3 separate regions of the Homo sapiens genome follow, and regions 2 and 3 are each linked to region 1. The links come from fine-mapping of genetic effects on gene expression. A gene starts in region 1. Each other region holds a variant in brackets. All regions are shown on one strand. Distances are between the middles of the regions.

Region 1 (6,553 bases):
AAGTAATTCGGCCAGAGGTCATGCAGCTGGTAACTAAATCTGACTCCATGCAACTAAAGCCTCCAGAGGTCTTGCCTTTTAATGATTAAAATGTGATCTCTTCTTGGACATCGTTTTTTGAGAGCTGGCTTCCAACAACAGATCTGCTCCACTACACATGAATCCCACTATACCCGTGTGCTTACCTGAATTTCTTCATTTTCGTCTACTAGGAGGAAACTCACAACCTTCTCAGTCATCTTCTTCCTCTTGGTCTCCTCATCCATCTCTTCTGCCTCCAGTGACTCCTGGAGATTACTGACATTGTACACAGTAACAGGGTGTCTCCTTTTGTTACCCCCAGAATGAGTCCTCTTCTGGCACTCCAGGCACAAGTTAATTTTGCAGGTCTGGCACCTCACTATTGCCCTCTGCCTAACACCTGGTAAATGCCCACTGAGACCCTTGCAGAGGTCACAGTAAGGGACATGGCCAGGTTTGAGTCTTATCCGCTCATGGTTTCTCAGGCGCTCCTGCCGATGGAGCTCCTCCTCGCAGCGGAGACACTGCAGACTGCAGCACTCATCACACTCAAAGATAGCTTCATCAGTCCCGCTGCAAGCGTAACTTTCCTGGCACATCAGCCCCGGATTCAGGCCCTTCTCTGCTGGGGAAGTCTGGGCACTCATACTCACGCTGGTAAGGAAACACACCCACCATATAATAGTCACTGAGCTTGCCCCGGGGGTGAAGACGAAGATTTGAGTCTGAAGACTGCACGAAACTTCCACAGGGTTCTGAACACTTTAAAAAAGAACACCTTTCATGTCCTGTTATAGTTCTTCACAAACAAATGTTCAAATTTTTAATTTGCTGCCTCTAAGACTCTTGTATTAGCAGCAACGTTGATTTGGTTTGATGGTTTCATCCTCCATAAAGTGCAAGCAAAGATGTGGTCAAAATTGACTTGGAAGGGTCTTTTATGGCTATCTGAGAGAGGTCTGATGGGTTCACGGTGGTGGGTTCATCGGTTGGACATCAGCTACAAAGTTTTGGTAATGAAAGAAAGTGGTCAGGAGCTTTTCAATATAATTCGACCTGAAGTCAGTATTTCAGGGGATACCTAGAATAGAGGAAGGAAAAGGATTTCACTCATCTAAAAAACAGAAGTGCACCTTTAAAAAAATTTTTTTTGACTAAATTAAATATTAGCCCAGAACTGCTGAGAGAAATCTCATTCCTCTTTTTTTTCTTTTTTTTTTTTTTGAGACAGAGTTTTGCTCTTGCTGCCCAAGCTGGAGTGCAATGGGACAGTCTCGGCTCACTGCAACCTCCGCCTCCCGGGTTCAAGCGATTCTCCTGCCTCAGCCTCCCAAGGAGCTGGGATTACACGCGCTAGCCACAATGCCCAGCTAATTTTTGTATTTTTAGTAGAGACGGGGTTTCACCATGTTGGCCAGGCTGGTCTTGAACTCTTGACCCCAGGTGATCTGCCCGCCTTGGCCTCCCAAAGTGCTGGGATTACAGGCGTGAGTCACCGCACCTGGCCAGAAATCTCATTTTCTATCTTAACACTTACACTGGCTTGTTGTATAGCCAGGCGCAGTGGCTCACACCTGTAATTCCATCACTTTGGGAGGCCGAGGTGGGCAGATCACTTGAGGTCAGGAGTTCGAGACTACCCTGTCCAACATGGTGAAATCCCATCTCTACTAAAAATACAAATATTAGCTGGGCATGGTGGCAGGCACGTGTAATCCAAGCTACTAGGGAGGCTGAGGCAGGAGAATCACTTGAACCCAGGAGGCGGAGGTTGCAGTGAGCCAAGATCTTGCCACTGCACTCCAGCCTGGAAGACAGGGCAAGACTCCCTCAAAAAAAAAAAAAAAAAAAAAAATCTCAAAATTGTGGCTAAAGCTCCTCCTCTTGACAACAAACGCCACCTCTAGGCCCAAGGCATTTAAGAGACTTTGCTGCTCTATTTCCCAGACTGGAATTTTCTGTTCATTCAGATATTAAATTCAGAATCTAAATCACTAAGTGAGTAGTCCTTGGAAGGACAGCCCTCTGCACCCCCACATGCATCCCACAATTGGGAGGAGTGGAGAGGCCTTCACAAAGCTAATGAAAATGTAATAATAAACTTTAGATCTATCAAATACCTGGGCCGACCTGGTTAGCCTTGTAACTGGATTGTTTCAACTCTAGCTAGATGTATATTAAAGACTCAAAACTTAGAAACAATAGTAACAATTTCATCTTTAAAAACAATTTTTTTACACTGTAATTCTTCTGTCCCTTCTTTCACTAACTGAAAAAAAAAAAAAAAAGGAGCAACAGGAGACAATTCCTCTACTTTGACCCATGGCAAAGCCAGGCCTGCAGTGAATCAAAACAAATAATTTTTCTCTTTGTCACTTAAAAACTAACTTAAAAATAACTTCAAAATACGAAAAAAGATAACTGGGGCAAGAAAGGGGCTTTTGTCACTTTGACAATTATATTCCTAATTCCCCCTAGCCTTGACCCGCATTCCAAGGCCCCGACAAGGTGTAAAGCCCTGCCTTTCTGATAGTCACTCCTCCCCTACAGTAATCAATCTATCAACCTTATTTTCAGATAAACAAGGAAGGCGAAGGGAGTGACTAGGGGATCTTATTTACTACAATCTAACCTCAGACATGCCCAGCCAGCTCCCAAAACAGAAACAAAAATCAAACTTGTCACAATTGAGAAAAATATAAAATCAACCTTCAAAAGTACACCTCACGCCCGGCCATGTCAACCAAACATTTTGCCCACTCGGGCCCCCACCTCGACACCTCTCCCCAGCCGGGGGTTCCTCACCCTTCCTTCCACCCGGACACCACCGCCACAACCCGAGGGGCAGGAGCGGAGCCTAAGAACAAAGAAGGTCCCCCAAAATCCCCCCCACGCCGGCAAAACCCGGAGCCGAATCCATTGTTTATACCACCCCACCCCCACCCCCGCCGCACCCGCCCCCCCTTCCTCCCGAGGGCAGCCTGAGCCCCAGGACGATCACTCGCCCCGCGCTGGGCCGTGCCCTCCCCGCCCTGCCCTGCCCGCCGCGGCCCGGGGATCCCACCACTGAGAAGCTCGGCCGCAGCAAGGCGGCGTCGGGGGGCCGCAGGGCGCCAGTGGGGGCAGAGGCTATTCCTCAGGACACCGGCAGATCCATCCTCATCTCCATCTCCGCCACCCTCCTCCTTCGTTGCCTCCCGGGCTTCCTCCTCTCCTGTTGTCAGTTGGGATCAGCTGATCGGAGTGAACTTCTCCCAGCTCGGACTAACAGGAAGGCGTGAGCGGTGCAGCCCAGAAAGGGAGGAGCGAGAGAGGGAGGATCCCGGCGCCAGCAAGGGCGTAGTGCGCACTGCCTCCTGGGAGATGTAGCTCCTCGAGGCGCGCTCTCGCCCCTCATCCCGGAAAGGAAGACTCTGAATGACTACAACTCCCAGTACTGAAGAGGCTGCTCTTGCGAGGAGGCGGTGGGGACAGGCTACGGAGGATTTCGGGACTTGGAGTTTTTGCATTGAGTGTGGTGTCCGCAGGTTTCAGCACGTTCTTTTGGGTTGTAACTGGGGAAGGCATGGTGCTACATTAGAGAACTGATGTAATAATGTCTAGTATAAGTGGGAAATGGTGAGTCAATTAATTTGGATTCAAGTAACCTCTTGCACACCATTCCCTCAGAAACGTGTGAGCACAGACAGTCTCCACCTTCCCAATTTCACTTCGCAAAAACTAAGGAAAAGACCAGAAAAAGTGATAAGAGGATATAGGTACTCTTGGGAAGTTTTTGTTGTTTTTCCCCCCTTGGCAAAGGACAAAATTACAACGAATTTAGTTTTAAGATCTCAGTTGGCTTTATTGCGACTCTAGGATCAGGCAACACTTCATTCCAGAAAGTGGAGTGAATGTTCTGATGAGCTGAGCAGGAGAGGTTGGCTTTGTAGACAGAGAAAAGCTTGAGGAAGCAAAAGCAAAGAACAAAGAGCATATTGGTTTCTTTCTTTCTCTTTCTTGTCATTCTTTTCTTTCCTCTTTCTTCTCTTTTTTTCAGTCTTCTCATGGGACCTTGACATATTGGTCACTTCTAAGCTACTTTCCTTGGAAGGTGAGGACAGAGAGACAGAACAATAGAAAAATAACTGATTAGTTGACATCAGTTACTTCAGGCTACTTCTTTTGTGTAAGGATTACAACAGAGGGAGCTTCATTATCATGCAACATTAAAACAAGCCTGTTTGGGAAACTGGCTGTCCTTATCCCTCTTTCCTGATTTCTCTGAAGGTCAGATAACAACTTAGCTTGGGTTTGGTAACAACTTAGTTTGGATTTGGTGAGGTGAAACTTTAGCATGGGTGACTCCATTTTTATTTTAGCCAGGTCTATTGGGGCCTGGTGCAGGAGTTTAGTCCAAAACAAAGGCCTCCTATCATTTTTACTTAACACCCTTCAAGGGTATTCTCCAAGCCAACCATGAATTTTTTTTCCTACCTATTATTTTTCTGATCTTTCCTTCTATAGTTTCAGAACTTCTCAGGCTGGGCGCGGTAGCGCATGCCTGTAATCCCAGCACTTTGGGAGGTCGAGGTGGACGGATCACCTGAGGTCGGGCGTTCGAGACCAGCCTGACCAACATGGAGAAACTCCATCTCTACTAACAGATACAAAATTAGCCGGGCGTGATGATGCATGCCTGTAATCCCAGCTACTCGGTAGGCTGAGGCAGGAGAATTGCTTGAACCTGGGAGGCAGAGGTTGCAGTAAGCCGAGATCACGCCATGGCACTCCAGCCTGGGCAACAAGAGGGAAACTCTGTCTCAAAAAAAAAAAAAAAAAAAAGCTATTATACTTTCAGAACTTCTCAATTTGAAATTATCTTTGAGGGCCAGGCACGGTGGCTCATGCCTGTAATCCCAGCACTTTGGGAGGCCAAGGAGAGCGGATCATGAGCTCAGGAGTTCAAGACCAGCATGGCCAACATAGTGAAACCTCATCTCTACTAAAAATACAAAACATTAGCTGGGTGTGGTGGTGTGCACCTGTAATCCCAGCTACTCGGGAGGCTGAGGCAGGAGAATCACATGAACCCGGGAGGCAGAGGTTGCAGTGAGCCAAGATCGCACCATTGCACTCCAGCCTGGGCAACAGTGCAAGACTCTGTCTCAAACAAGAAAAAAAAAAAAAGAAAGAAATTTTCTTTGCGTTAGATGGGCTAAATTTTCAGATAAGTTTTCAGGCTACAGTGCAGGCTAATGGTTAACATTTATCAGGCTTTTTTTTCTTTTTTTATGGCCTTATATTTGTTTAGTGCTTTCACTTTTTGTTTGTTTCTTGAAACAACATTGAAAGAAAGCCTGAGTCTGTGTTGCCAAAGATTGACTGCTTGCTCTAGAAAAGCTCCTGAAGGCCTGGTGTGGTTGTTCCTGTGTGTAATCTCAACACTTTGGGAGGCCAAGGCACGCAGAGCACTTGAGGTCCTGGCCAACATGGTGAAACCATGACTATACTAAAAATACAAAAAATTAGCTGGGAATGGTGGCATGTGCCTGTAATCCCAGCTACTCTGGAGGCTGAGGCAGGAAAATCACTTGAACCCCAGAGGCAGAGGTTCCAGTGAGCCAAGATTGTGCCACTGCACTCCAGCCTGGGCAATGGAGCAAAACTCCATCTCAAAAAAAAAAAAAAAAAAAAAAGAGGCTGGGCGCAGTGGCTCACGCCTGTAATCCTAACACTTTGGGAGGCTGAGGCGGGTGGATTGCCTGAGCTCAGGAGTTCAAGACCAGCCTGGGCAACATGGTAAAAACCCATCTCTACTAAAACACACACACACACAAAAAATTAGCCAGGCATGGCGGCGTGCACCTGTAATCCCAGCAACTAGAGGGACTGAGACAAGAGAATCACTTGAACCCGGGGGTTGGAGGTTGCAGTGAGCCGAGATCGTGCCATTGCACTCCAGCCTGGGTGACAGAGTGAGAGACTCCATCTCAAAAAAAAAAAAAAGAAAGAAAGAAAGAAAACGTCCTGACTATACAGGTGGTTGGGTAAGTCACTCAACCTCTCCACAAAATAGAAATTGTAATTAATGAAGTCCCTGCCAATTCCAACATACTATGATTCTATCTTGATAATTGTTAACCCAGAAGAGAAAACTAAGATTAAGTGACTTGCCAGGGTTACACAACAAATTATTGACAAATCTGGGACAAGACTGTATCTGCTGACTTGAAGTCCAATACTTTTTACCTTATGATTCCAGGGACATAAGTAAACCACTAGCAAAATCAAATCTACATAATAATGACCCATATATGAGGATTAAATTGCTGAAAATTATATTTTCAATATTGGGCAGAGAGCCAATGGTTGGATTATGAAACATGGCTGAGAAATTGTTTTCTAAAAACAACTTCTAGGGCCGGGCGCAGTGGCTCATGCCCGTAATCCCAGCACTTTGGGAGGCCGAGGCAGGTGGATCACGAGGTCAAGAGTTCAAGACCAGCCTGGCCAAGATGGCAAAACCCTGGCTCTACTAAAAATACAAAAA
Region 2 (6,553 bases), 29 kb after region 1:
TTTTTTTTTTTTAAGACAGAGTTTCACTCTTGTTACCCAGGCTGGAGTGCAATGCTGTGATCTTGGCTCACCACACCCTCCACCTTCCAGGTTCAAGCGATTCTCCTGCCTCAACCTCCTGAGTAGCTGGGATTATAGGCATGCACCACCATGCTTGGCTAATTTTTTGTATTTTTAGTAGAGACGGGATTTCTCCATGTTGGTCAGGCTGGACTCAAACTCCTGACCTCTGGTGATCCGCTTGCCTCAGCCTCCCAAAGTGCTGGAATTACAGGTGTGAGCCACATTGCCCGGTCAATTTTTTTTTTTGACTAAGTCTCGCTGTGTCACCCAGGGTGGAGTGCAGTGGTGCCATCTTGGCTCACTGCAACCTCCGCCTCCTGGGTTCAGGCAATTCTCCTGCCTCAGCCTCCCAAATAGCTGGGACTACAGGTGAGTGCCACCACACCTGGCTAAGTTTTGTATTTTTAGTAGAGACAGGGTTTCTCCATGTTGGTCAGGCTGGTTTCAAACTCCTGATCTCAGGTGATCCACCCGCCTCAGCCTCCCAGAGCGCTGGGATTACAGGCGTGAGCCATCATGCCTGGCCTGCATTTTTAAATTTTAAGCTCACATTTGATATCAGAATCCTGAAGCCTAAATTAGGGATTCTTTTCTCCATGGGAACTATGTTTGCTTCTGTCAAGAGCCTAGGACTATTACTAACAAGGGAGCACTTTAACATCCTTTCAGAGTCCTGACTTAACTTGGTAAACTTCAGTTACTCCACCTTGCTGGGTAGTCCAGCCTTGATCTCTAGATTCTGTGTTAATGTGCTTCCTCTCTCTATCTTCTTCTCTCTATATACACATATATATTATATATATTCACATATATTATATATATAATGGCATTATATGTATTATATTTATATATTTTATGCCATTATATACTATATAATGGCATTGTATATATATATATATTTATGTATGTATATGTATTTATGTGTGTGTATATATATATATATATATATATATATATATATATAATGATGGCCATGCATACACACGCAAACACACACACACACACAAGCAATCCTCTCTCCTCATGATTGAGACTACAGGTGTGTGCTACTGTGCTGGGCTCCAGTTTCAATTTTTGAGAAGATCTGCTCAGTTCCAGCTAAACAACATTTTTCCTGGTATGCTGCTGTTTAGTTGGGTCAGATGTGGCCAATGAGAATAGGGTCCAGGCCAGGTGTGGTGGCTCATGCCTGTAATCCCAGCATTTTGGGAGGCTGTGGCAGGTGGATCACCTGAGGTCGGGAGTTGGAGACCGGCCTGGCTAACATGGAGAAACCCCACCTCTACTAAAAATACAAAATTAGCTCGGCATGGTGGCATGTGCCTGTAATCCCAGCTACTTGGGAAGCTATGCCAGGAGAATCGCTTGAACCTGGGAGGCGGAAGTTGCGGTGAGCCGAGATCATGCCATTGCATTCCAGCCTGGGCAATGAGAACAAAACTCCATCTCAAAAAAAAAAAAAAGAAAAAAAAAAGAATGGTGTCCAAATGCACACAGAATGTAATATCCAAATTAATTATCTACAGTTTCCTTAGCAAGGATTTGTAAGAAAAAAATAGAAGGAGGATAACTGGCATCGCAAATGAATGGCTTGGCTTGTTCTCTACAAGTGGTATATAAGTGTATCATTTAGAGTTCTTTCTGTGTAAGGAATAGAAAACTCAACTCAAACTGATTTCGGAAAAGTAATGTATTGGGTTACATACTGATAAGCCTAGAACAGCTGGCTTTAGGAGTAGCTGAGCCAGCCGGGCTCAGTGTAATCCTGGCTTTTGGGAGGCTGAGGTGGGAGAATCGCTGGAGCCTGGAAAGTTGAGGCTGCAGTGAGCCGTGATCATGCCACTGCACTCTAGCCGGGACAACAAAGGGAGACCCTATCTCAAATAACAACAGCAATAACAAACCAAAAAACAAACAAAATGAATGAATGAACCATTTTCTCAACTGATATTGTCAAAAATCTCTCACCCTGTCTTACTTCTGCTTTCTTCTGTGATTTCATTCTCATCCCCATCTATTCTAAGCTTAAATCCTCCTAAGCTTAAATTGAAAAAAAAAAATCAATTTAAATGAAAAATATAGAGACCCCTCCCCTTCTTTTTAGGATTATTCCTGAAAGGATGAAGCAGTATAATGTTCCAGAGCACGAACTCAGGAACCAGACTGGCTCACTTACTATTTTTGTAGCCTTTGATAGGTTAATTTTTGCAAGCCTTGGTTTCTTCATTTGTATCACAATAGTTCTTACTTCAGGGGGTTGTTATGAGGATTAAAGGAGTTGATATTTGCAAAATGCTTTAAACAGTGGCTAGTACCAAAAAAAAAAAAAAAAAAAAAAGGGAGGGGTGACTAAATCATCAGGTTTTGATTAGGTTGTAAGTTTACTCCTGTGTCCTAAGGGGGTCTGGTTAGAGTTGGGACTTCCTATCCAAAGTACATGGATCTGGAGTAGTGGAAGGATGGTTTCTTTTCTTTTTTTTTTTTTTAGACCGAGTTTTGCTCTTGTTGTCCAGGCTGGAGTGCAATGGCGCGATCTCGGCTCACTGCAACCTCTGCCTGCTGGGTTCAAGCGATTTTCCTGCCTCAGCCTCCTGAGCTGCTGGGATTACAGGTGCCTGCCACCACGCCCAGCTAATTTTTGTTATTTTTAGTAGAGACAGGGTTTCGCCATGTTGGCCAGGCTGGTCTCGAACTCCTGACCTCAGGTGATCCACCCGCCTCGGCCTCCTGAAGTGCTGGGATTACAGGTGTGAGCCACTGCACCTGGCTTTTTTTAGACAGAGTCTTGCTCTGTTGCCCAGGCTGGAGTGCAGTGGCGCAATCTCGCCTCACTGCAACCTCTGCCTCCCAGGTTCAAGCGATTCTCCTGCCTTGGCCTCCCAAGTAACTGGGACTACAGGCACACATCACCAAGCCCAGCTAATTTTTGTATTTTTAGTAGAGGCGGGGTTTCACCATGTTGGTCAGGCTGGTCTTGATCTCTTGACCTCGTGATCTGCCTGCCTCGGCCTCCCAAAGTGCTGGGATTACAGGCGTGAGCCACCGCACCCGGCCAAGATGGTTTCTTTTAAAAAATGTGGAGGGTTCATTACTAAAGGCAAGGGGAATGGATGCTGCATGAACATCAGCAACAAATTGTCTAAGGTAGGAAAGTTAGCAAATTGTTGCCTGAGGGCTCCCTTTATTACACAGTAAACACAAATTCATGTACAATGTTTCTAATAATAAAAAGGGACACAGATTAATCTGAGATTTCTGTTTATGCCTTTTGTTGTAAATAGGCACAAACTCTTGGGCGGCCATGGTGGCTCACAGCTTTGATCCCAGCACTTTGGGAGGTCCAGGTGGGCGGATTACCTGAGGTCAGGAGTTGGAGATCAACCTGGCCAACATGGTGAAACCCCATCTCTACTAAAAATACAAAAGTTAGCCAGGTATGGTGACCCACGCCTATAATCCCAGCTACTGGGGAGGCTGAGGCACAAGAATCGCTTGAACTGGGAGGCAGAGATTGCAGTGAGCCAAGATCACGTCACTGCACTCTAGCCTGGGAAACAGAGACACCTCCTCAAAAAACAAAAACAAAACAAAACAAAAAAAGAAACTCATTTTATTTACAAACAATAAATAGCATTATAGAGTAGCACTATAAAAACTATAAATTTGAATAGCACTTTACTGAACAAAGTACAAACATACATAAGTTAATTTCGTCTCCCAAGTAACTGGGACTACAAGCACTCGTCATCACGCACGGCCAAAGGTATTATTAACTTTAGTTAATGGTAAGGAAACCTAGCAAGCAGAAGTATAGAAGGATGTAAATTTTGCAGATGGTAGTAATTAGTGCTACTTTCTCATTTGTGCTCCCACTAAATTTTGTGTTCTATTGGTACTCATCATATGTTAATC[ATTTCT/A]TTTCTTTTCTTTTCTTTTTTTTTGAGACAATGTCTCACTTTGTTGCCCAGGCTGGAGTGCAGTGGTGCCATCTCGGCTCACTGCAACCTCCGCCTCCAGGGTTCAAGCGATTCTCCTGCCTCAGCCTCCCGAGTAGCTGGGATTACAGGCGCCTGCCACCACGCCTAGTTTATTTTTGTATTTTCAGTAGAGACGGGGTTTTGCCATGTTGGCCAGGGTGGCCTCGAACTCCTAACCTCAGGTGATCCACCCGCCTCGGCCTCCCAAAGTGCTGGGGTTACAGGCGTGAGCCACCGCGCCCGGCCGGTAATCATTTCTGTCACTCAACAAATATTTATTGAGCGCTTGCTATGTACCAGGACCTGTTCTTGCACAAAACAGGCAATCCATGCATTGCTTACATTCACATTCTAGTGGGGGTAGTGACGGACCATAAAATCAGCAAGAAAAATGTATGTTATGATAGATGGTTATGAGTGCTTTAGAGTAAAATTAAGTAGGGGAGGCAGGCAGGAAGTGTGTAGTATGTTTCAATTTTATATTAGGCTGGTCATGGTTTGTCATCTATTTCACCTGGCTCACAGTTCTTGCAGGACAGGAACAAATCTCACTTCCATTTGCCTTCATACTTCCAGCACTTAACACAGCACCAGGAACTCAGGGAGGCAATAACTTTATACTGAATCCGTTTTATGCCTTCCTAGAGGCAAGCAGTTGAGAAAGGCGTGTAACTAGATATTGCCTATAAGGTCCACAATTGGAATAACGTAATCATTTATGATTAATTTTATTCATTTCCATTAACTTAAGCTAAGTTCTTTTAGCACGTTTAGATTACAGAACGAAAGCTGTGTTAACTAGTATTACAGGACTTTTCACGTTTTTCCAAACATCTTCTAGCCACCTCTTTGGCCCTACAACTACGCATAAGCTTTTGCTTTTCAAAAAACCTCCACAGCCTTTGCCAATTATTTGTTGATCTCGAGTAGTTGTTATAACAGCACTTGGGGTTTAACACTAAGGTTGCAGATCGCGCCCAGTTATCAGTTCCTCGAACCTCAAGGAATCACAAAGCAAGGTTCCACCCCCCGAAAAACTACGAAAAGTGAGAAAGCCTCTAACACTCCTCGCGCCGTGCCCAGCCGGAACCTTGACCTCAAGATGGCGTCCCGTAGTCGTAAGATTCAGTCGGCTCCAATCAAACATGGTGGGTCATAATTTACAGTTCGGGCCTTTCTAGTAACCGCTAGACGCTGCTTCTCTATGGTTATTCGTCTCGGCTTGGTGAGTCAGAGCCAACAGCGGAGACGATCTATATACGTTCTTCTCTATGGTTCCGCGCTCCCCGCCCCCGGCCGCAGTGCACGCCGGGCAAGAGGAAGACCTCCATCAGCTCGCCGCGCAGCGCGGCTGTATTTGCGGCCTGTGCGAGTAGGCGCTTGGGCACTCAGTCTCCCTGGCGAGCGACGGGCAGAAATCTCGAACCAGTGGAGCGCACTCGTAACCTGGATCCCAGAAGGTCGCGAAGGCAGTACCGTTTCCTCAGCGGCGGGTGAGTTTGTGTCTCTGAACGCGTGTGGAAACCGGGAGACCGGGTGCCTCAGCTGGTGGAGGAGGAAAAGCCGGGGTGGCTGCGAAAGCGCCAGGGTGGGGTAGAGGTAAGGGGGAGCGCGGAGGCGGGGGTGGGGGAGGGGTCGGCACGAGGCTTGGTTTCTTCTCTTCTCTAAGGCCTGGAAAAGCTGTGGGCCCAGCCGTAGCTGGTGGAGGCCAGACCTACGGCTTGAGCTTTCCGTCTTGCATTGTCGCCCACTTTCCCTTTCCCTTCCACGTTCCGCCGCGGAGTGAATCGTCTCTGCCCCCCCTGGGCTCCACGTTAGATACAAAACGATCGATCTGCCCCAGGGGAGCCCTTCCCTGAGCCCCCTTACTTACCGGAGCCCCACAGTAGGTTTTCGGGCCTGGGACACTCTCGCCCCAGCCGTTGCCTTGAAGTTAGCCTCTACCCACCCTTTTTAGCGAGGTGCTGGCCACCAACGGATATCTTTCCCTTCCTCTTTGGCCATCTAGAGCCCGCCACCAAGTGAACTGGGCCCCACCCCCTTGGAATTGAGCTAATACCTACCTTTTTAGCAGTCTCCTGGCTTGCTTAAGATAGTCATGAATTTTGCCATCCTGCCTCTTTTGCGCATTGGAGGGTGCAGTAAACTGTATATCGCCATTCATTCTAGGCGATTACTAAGCTCCACATTAAAATGTTACTTTCTCATTTTTCTTTGGTCGTCAATCCTGCTTTTAAATACGGTTTTCCGGAATAGACGTAGGACTATGAAGATTTTTCGGAGGTTATGTAATATGGATTTGTATTGCCATGGAAATGCCATTTTGATACTGGGCAGAGTGGAGCCAAGAGAAGGGAAGAGATTGGACCTCTGTTGCACCCTACTGCTGTATTAGTGTGAAGTACTCTGTGTATTAGGCCGTGGGCAGTAATGTATAAATAATTTTTGTATAGTCTTTGGAGCTTTTAATTTTTTTAAAGGCTATTTCCAAAAACATTCAGAGGACTTGAAAG
Region 3 (6,553 bases), 91 kb before region 1:
GTTGTTTGTTTGAGACGGGATCTTGCTATGTTGCGCAGGCTGGTCTTGAACTCCTAGGCTCAAGCAATCCTCCTGCCTCGGCTTCCCGAGCAGCTGGGATTATAGGCATCAGCCACTGCACCCAGCCCTGGATAATTCTTGCTGAAGAATGTGTGGAAGCTGCCCTGCGCATTGTAGGGTGGTTAGCAGCATCCCTGGCTTTTACCCACTAGGCGCTAGTAGCAGCCTACCCCTCCTTCTCCCGAGCTGTGACAAACAAAAATGTCTCCAGACATTGCCAGATGTCCCCTGGTGGGCAAAATAATCCTTAAGAAGCACTGATCTACAAACTGTGATGCATACTGGGTTTTATATTATTACTAGATAAAATTGTCTCTAATGGCCAGGTGCGGTAATCCCAGCACTTTGGGAGGCCGAGATGGGCAGATCACAAGGTCAGGAGTTCGAGACCAGCCTGGCCATTATGGTGAAACCACATCTCTACTAAAAATACAAAAATGAGCCAGGCATGGTGGCATGCGCCTGTAGCCCCAGCTATTCGGGAGGCTGAGGCAGAAGAATCGCTTGAACCCAGGAGGCAGAGGTTGCAGTGAGCCGAGATTGTGCCATTGCACTCCAGCCTGGGTGACAGAGCAAGACTCCATCTCAAAAAAAAAAAAAAAAGTCTCTAATTCTCACTGTATACCATTACCACTTTGGTGCCATTTGTCCCAGTCCATGTCACCATATCCTGTTTACTTTCAAATCTGTCTCTTTAGGCTCAATTTCTCTCTGTATTCTCAGACCCGTATTTCCCATTGCCTGCATCTTGAGATTGATTTGTTCAAAATCAGACTTACTCTCCTCTCCCCAAAGTGTTCTTCCTTTATTCTTAGTCTCCCTGCTCATGACTCTACCAGTTATTCACTTAACCTTTCTCAACTCCTCTCTCCACCTCTCCCATGAAATTTGCTGCCTAAATCTAAATCCAGGCTCCGCTATCCCAAGTACCATGTCCATAATGTGTAAGCGAGTTCATCTCACCTGGCTTGCCACTGCAGTTCTTACTTGTCACCCCATGCCGCTGCCTTTCAGGTGCCCTTTCTTAGCAGCTCTAATCATGTCACTCCTCGCACACCCAGAGTCCTCATGATCATGCCCTGTCTGCCTCTGCAGGCTCATCCCCCCCATTTCTTGAACTTCAGGCTCTGGCCATACCAAACAGCCTGCAGGCCCCCCGCCCCCACTGCCTTACGTGGCATTTTCTTTTTTTTTTTTTTGAGACGGAGTCTCGCTCTGTTGCTCAAGGCTGGAGTGCAATGGCGCTATCTCGGCTCACGGCAACCTCCACCTCCCGGGTTCAAGCGATTCTCCTGCCTCAGCCTCCCAAGTAGTGGGGATTGCAGGCGCCCACTACCATGCCTGGCTAATTTTTGTATTTTTAGTAGAGACGGGGTTTCTCCATGTTGGTCAGGCTGGTCTCAAACTCCCAACCTCAGGTGATCCACCCGTCTCGGCCTCCCAAAGTGCTGGGATTACAGGTGTGAGCCACTGCACCCGGCCTAATTTTTGTATTTTTAGTAGAGTTGGGGTTTCGTCATGTTGGTCAGGCTGGTCTCAAACTGCTGACCTCAGGTGATCTGCCCACCTCAGTCTGCCAAAGTGCTGGGATTACAGGCGTGAACCACCACGCCGGGCTTGCCTGACATTTTCATTCTTCAGACTGCACTTATCTCCCTCCCCCACCTCCAGCCCAGGCATGTGGAGCAGTCACTCCCTTCTCTCCCACCACACCTGGAGAGACCTGGGTCTTCATCCTTATCCTGTGCTGCAGGGGTTGGTCTGTGCATCTGTCTCCCATATTAAACAATCGGTGCCTCCAAGCCAGGTAGCACAGCTTATTATCTCTGCCCACTCCCCAGTGCCTCACATGGAGTGGGCGCTTTGTAAATGTGTGTGGAGTAGTAAGTGGAAATAACCCAGAGCAGAAAGAAGCTACCTGGGACTTAAATGTAAAGTAGCCACAGGTTTTGTTTTGCTTTGCTTCAGTTCAGCAAAAATTTACTAAGCACCAACTAGGTCATGGATGCTAGGAATAGAAAAAAGAACAAAGTAGGATGTTTGCCTTACAGAATTCACCTCACGTCCAGTATGAGATGGGAGTATGAACAAACAGTCATGCAGAGTGATGAGTGCAAACATGGACTATAAAGCGGCCATAGAGAATGAACTGTGTTTGTGTTTAGAGAAGACACACTCCCCACCCCTGAACAGGCTTCTTAAAAGTACTAGAAAGGTACTGTCTTTGTCCTAGCCTTTAAACTCTTACTGTATTTGGAAGGCTTCTATTAGTATGTGACTTTTTAAATGATTTTTTTTTTTGAGACGGAGTTTCACCCTTTTGCCCAGGCTGGAGTGCGGTGGTGCAATCTCAGCTCACTGCAACCTCCGCCACCTGGGTTCAAACGATTCTCCTGCCTCAGCCTCCCAAGTAACCGGGATTACAGGCACCAGCCACCACACCCAGTGAACTGTTGTACTTTTAGTAGAGACGGGGTTTCACCACGTTGGCCAGGCTGATCTCAAACTCCTGACCTCAGGTGATCCACCCGCATCGGCCTCCCAAAGTGTTGGGATTACAGGCGTGAGCCACCACATCCGGCCTTTAAAATGATTTTTGCTTGACCTTGCTAACTATATTACTTGAGGTTGGCAGGCTCCCTTACCAGATTGCAGTGCCTGTATGAGTTAGGGGTGAACACATGCTCTCCCTGGCCCAAATTGGCATTCGCCAGTGATTTTATCATCGGCTGCGTCCTGCTGATTGTGCAGCCCCCTATTGAGAATAATGGTGTGAGTGGGACACAGTCCTGCCTCCTGTGGGTGATCTGAAGTCTTTGACTCACCAGTTCGTGTGTTCTTTGCTGTATTCATGCATTGTTACATAATTCAACAAATTAGAATCATTTCATATACAGAATATGCACTCTAAAGAAATTTTGACCTTTTTATAGAGTTGGTAATAATAATAATCTTTATGTCAGTAGAGTTTATTTTTCCTATCAGTCTTTTTCTCTTTTTGAGATGGGGTCTCACTCTATTGCCCAGGCTGGTCTCAAACTCTGGGCTCAAGAGATCCTCCCACTTCAGCCTCCCAAAAGTGCTGGGATTACAGGCATGAGCTACTGCACGCAGCCATTTTCCTACCAGTCTTAACACTGGCCACACGTGCTTCCCTTCCTGTGCGCAGTCCCTTTCAGCTTGTAACTTAACTATTAATAAATACAACTGTATTCTTTAGCTGGGGTATAAGATAACTGATCCATAGGGAAAC[C/G]CACACATGGTGTTCAGGAGCCATTGTTTAGGACAATGAATAAGATAAAAGTTTTGGAGCCGGGCTTGGTGGCCCACGCCTGTAATCCCAGCACTTTGGGAGGACGAGGCAGGTAGATCACTTGAAGCCAGGAGTTCTTGAGCAGCCTGGCCAACATGGTGAAACCCCATCTCTACTAAAAATACAAAAATTAGCTGGGTGTGGTGGCAGGTGCCTGTAGTCCCAGCTACTCGGGAGGCTGAGGCAGGAGAATCGCTTGAACCCGAGAGGCAGAGGTTGCAGTGAGCTGAGATGGCGCCACTGCACTCCAGCCTGGGCAACAGAGCGAGACTCCATCTCAAAAAAAAAAAAAAAATACACACACATTTGGGCTGCAGGGGCAGGGATATTGCTTTCAGAGAAGAGAGGTATAGACAGGCAAAAGAGCAGATCGGGGGTTAGAGAGAAATCATGAACTCACTTTTGAACCTGTTGGGTCTGTGGAGATAGACACGAAGCAGCATAGGAACTTGGTGCTCAGTAGCGATATTAGGGTTGGAGCTGCATCTGCATTGGTAGATGAGGTGGTGTTAAGTCTGAAAAGAAAAGGATCTAGGACAGAACAATGGAAAGCACATACAGGGTGTGTGACCCAGGAGAAATGAGCAAAGGATTTATTTAGCAAGAAGAAAACCAAGAGAAAGATATTACAGAAGCCAAAGGAAGAATGTAGCCTCCTGGTGCCACATGTTGCAGGAATAAGGGCTAAAAAGAGACCACTCACTTTGGCAAGTAGGTAATCAATAGCAAGAGCATTTTAGTAGAAAGGCGAGGAGAGAGGAAGCTCAACTGCAGTGGGTTGAGGAATATCGGGAGATGAAGACATTGAATTCGTAGATGTAGACCATTCTTTCAGAATATGCCCATTTTTTTGGATTAGAAATGGAACACTTACAAATGAAAAACCTGGGCATGTTTTTAAAAGCTGAGATAAGGAGAAGGAGACATTAACATATGGGGGAACAGATAGATGTCTGCAGTTCCTGGGAAGGAATGAAATCAACAGCCAGGTGGGATGGGTCTCCCTTGAAAAGGAGCAGTGATACCTGTTGTCCAAGACAAGGAAGAAGACAATTAGTAAAGGCAGGTATTTGTGGAGCAGAAGGGAGTGAAGTTAGGGGTTTCATGCCTGGCAATTTTTCTTTTCTTTTTTTTTTTTTTTTTTTTGAGATGGTGTCTTGCTCTGTCGCCCAGGCTAGAGTGCAGTTTACAGTGAGCACAATCTCAGCTCACTGTAAACTCCACCTCCCGGGTTCAAGCGATTCTCCTGACTCAGCCTCCTGAGTAGCTGGGATTACAGGTGCACGTTACAACTCCCGGCTAATTTTTGTATTTTTAGTAGAGATGGGGTTTCACCATGTTGGTCAGGCTGGTCTCGAACTCCTGACCTCGTGATCCGCCTGCCTCGGCCTCCCAAAGTGCTGGGATTACAGGCATGAGCCACCGCGCCTGGCCGACCTGGCAACGTTTCTGTGGGGTAGGAAACTATGTGGTCGACTAAGGGTAACAGGAAGGAAGTGGGAAGGATGTTGGGGGAGTGCTGGAGGCAGCCCTTCCCAGGTAAGGCTTGCTGTGGCAAATCTGATGATAACCCAGGGTGGGCCAGCCTTTTGCTGGTGCTGAGCATGAAGCAGCTGCCAAGAAGCAAACAGAAAAGCCCATGCCCACACACAGAGATGTATGGATTTTTTTGTTTTTCTCTTTTAGGAACAGAAATGAATAAAAGTCGCTGGCAGAGTAGAAGACGACATGGGAGAAGAAGCCACCAGCAGAACCCTTGGTTCAGACTCCGTGATTCTGAAGACAGGCAAGTGTGCCGCTCTGGGGAGCCACTTTTGCCCAGTGTGCTTCTGGCATTGTACACATGGCATGTCACACGATCACAGGTGTGGAGATCACCTGGGGGCTCGTCCCAATGCAGGTTCTGATTCTGTAGGTCTGAGGGGTCTTGAGGAGAGCCTGCCTTCCTAACGTGCTCCCAGGGCATGTCGCTTTGGTGGGTCAGCCCACCTCACTGAGTAGTGAGGAGAGAGGACCACTCTCTGTTCTTTCCTAAGTGACCACGACCTCTGGCCAGAGCATTCGCCATAAAGCTAGAGGTAGACGTTATCTGAAACAACTGGAAAACCGTTTCTCCATTTTGTAGACTTTTTATGCAAATACCTTTGTGGAAACCAAATTTTATTAATTCAGCCTAAGTCTCGGACAAGGATATACACTCATGCTTCGCTTAACAAGGAGGAATGCATTCTGAGGAATATGTTGTTAGGCAGTCGTGTCATGCAAACATCATAGCACATACGTAACACAAACCTACATGGTACAGCCAGCCACACACACCTAAGCTATATGGTGTAGCCAATTGCTCCGAGGCTGCAAACCTGTACAGCATGTGACTACTGAATGCTAGAGGCAGTCAGTACACAGTGGTATTTGTGTATCTCAACATAGAAAAGATACAGTAAAAATAGGGTATATAAGATTTTTTTTTAAATGGTATACCTATGTATGACACTCCTGTGAACAGAGCTTGCGGGACTGGAAGTCAGTGAGTGAGTGATGAGTGAACACAAAGGCTTAGGACATTACTGTATGCTAGTGTAGACTTTAAAACCCTGTACACCAGGCTACATTACATTTATTTATTTATTTAAGAGATGAGGTCTCACTCTGTTGCTCAGGCTGGTCTCAAACTCCTGAGCTCAAGTGATCCTTCTGCCTCAGCCTCCCAAAGTGCTGGGATTACAGACTTGAACCACCACCCAGGCCAAGGCTACATTAAATGTATTTTTAAAATAAAGTTGGCTGGGCCGGGTGTGGTGGCTGACGCCTGTAATCCCAGCACTTTGGGAGACCAAGGCAGCCGGATCACTTGAGGTCAGGAGTTTGAGACCAGTCTGGCCAACACGGCGAAACTCCGTCTCTACTAAAAATATAAAAATTATCTGGGTGTGGTGGCACACACCTTTACTACATCCTTCAGCCTATAATTCCCTCAGAAGCTACTTGTGGATTTACAAATCAAGTGTTTTAGCCGCAGCTCTATCCCAGTGTTACTGAACTAATCACCTCTGTCCCCCAAACCCCAGTTTCTCTGTCTGTAAGATTGTGTAGTCAAGTAAAATTTAAACTCTTTGTGCTACTGAATCCAATAAAGAATGAAATTCACCTAGCCTTGTAACTGCTGTTGTGCTGACAAAT

Direction of the effects. Alleles are on the strand shown, and positions count from the first base shown. SD is a standard deviation of normalised expression in the study named. Not every link is listed here.
In carriers of allele ATTTCT in region 2, the expression in skeletal muscle of the gene that starts at base 3,266 in region 1 tends to be higher than with A alone (large effect, 1.1 SD a copy in FUSION).

Evidence for each region. PIP is the estimated chance that this variant, and not a neighbour inherited with it, causes the effect.
Region 2: its variant is the best candidate, but not a certain one, in a credible set for the expression of ZFYVE1 in skeletal muscle (FUSION, PIP 0.59).
Region 3: its variant is the best candidate, but not a certain one, in a credible set for the expression of ZFYVE1 in nasal epithelium (TOPMed, PIP 0.59).

What each region holds. Positions count from the first base shown.
Region 1 is chr14:73,023,841-73,030,393 of GRCh38, forward strand. ZFYVE1 (zinc finger FYVE-type containing 1) reads right to left here and starts at 3,266. Exons shown (of 12, transcript NM_021260.4): 1 at 3,086-3,266; 2 at 186-1,102. The coding sequence starts at 668. RefSeq lists a silencer at 2,969-3,178 and an enhancer at 3,409-3,608.
Region 2 is chr14:73,053,173-73,059,725 of GRCh38, forward strand. It overlaps RBM25 (RNA binding motif protein 25), which reads left to right and starts at 5,362. Exons shown (of 19, transcript NM_021239.3): 1 at 5,362-5,533. It overlaps RBM25-AS1 (RBM25 antisense RNA 1), which reads right to left and starts at 6,281. Exons shown (of 2, transcript NR_184256.1): 1 at 6,104-6,281; 2 at 3,658-5,585. RefSeq lists enhancers at 4,639-5,603, 4,675-5,874, 4,927-5,466. The variant ATTTCT/A (reference allele first, on the strand shown) is at 3,976.
Region 3 is chr14:72,932,912-72,939,464 of GRCh38, forward strand. DCAF4 (DDB1 and CUL4 associated factor 4) reads left to right here. Exons shown (of 14, transcript NM_015604.4): 2 at 5,060-5,159. The coding sequence starts at 5,068. Among named protein-coding and RNA genes, the nearest start is that of DCAF4, 9.7 kb to the left of the region's middle. RefSeq lists an enhancer at 6,512-6,553. The variant C/G (reference allele first, on the strand shown) is at 3,314.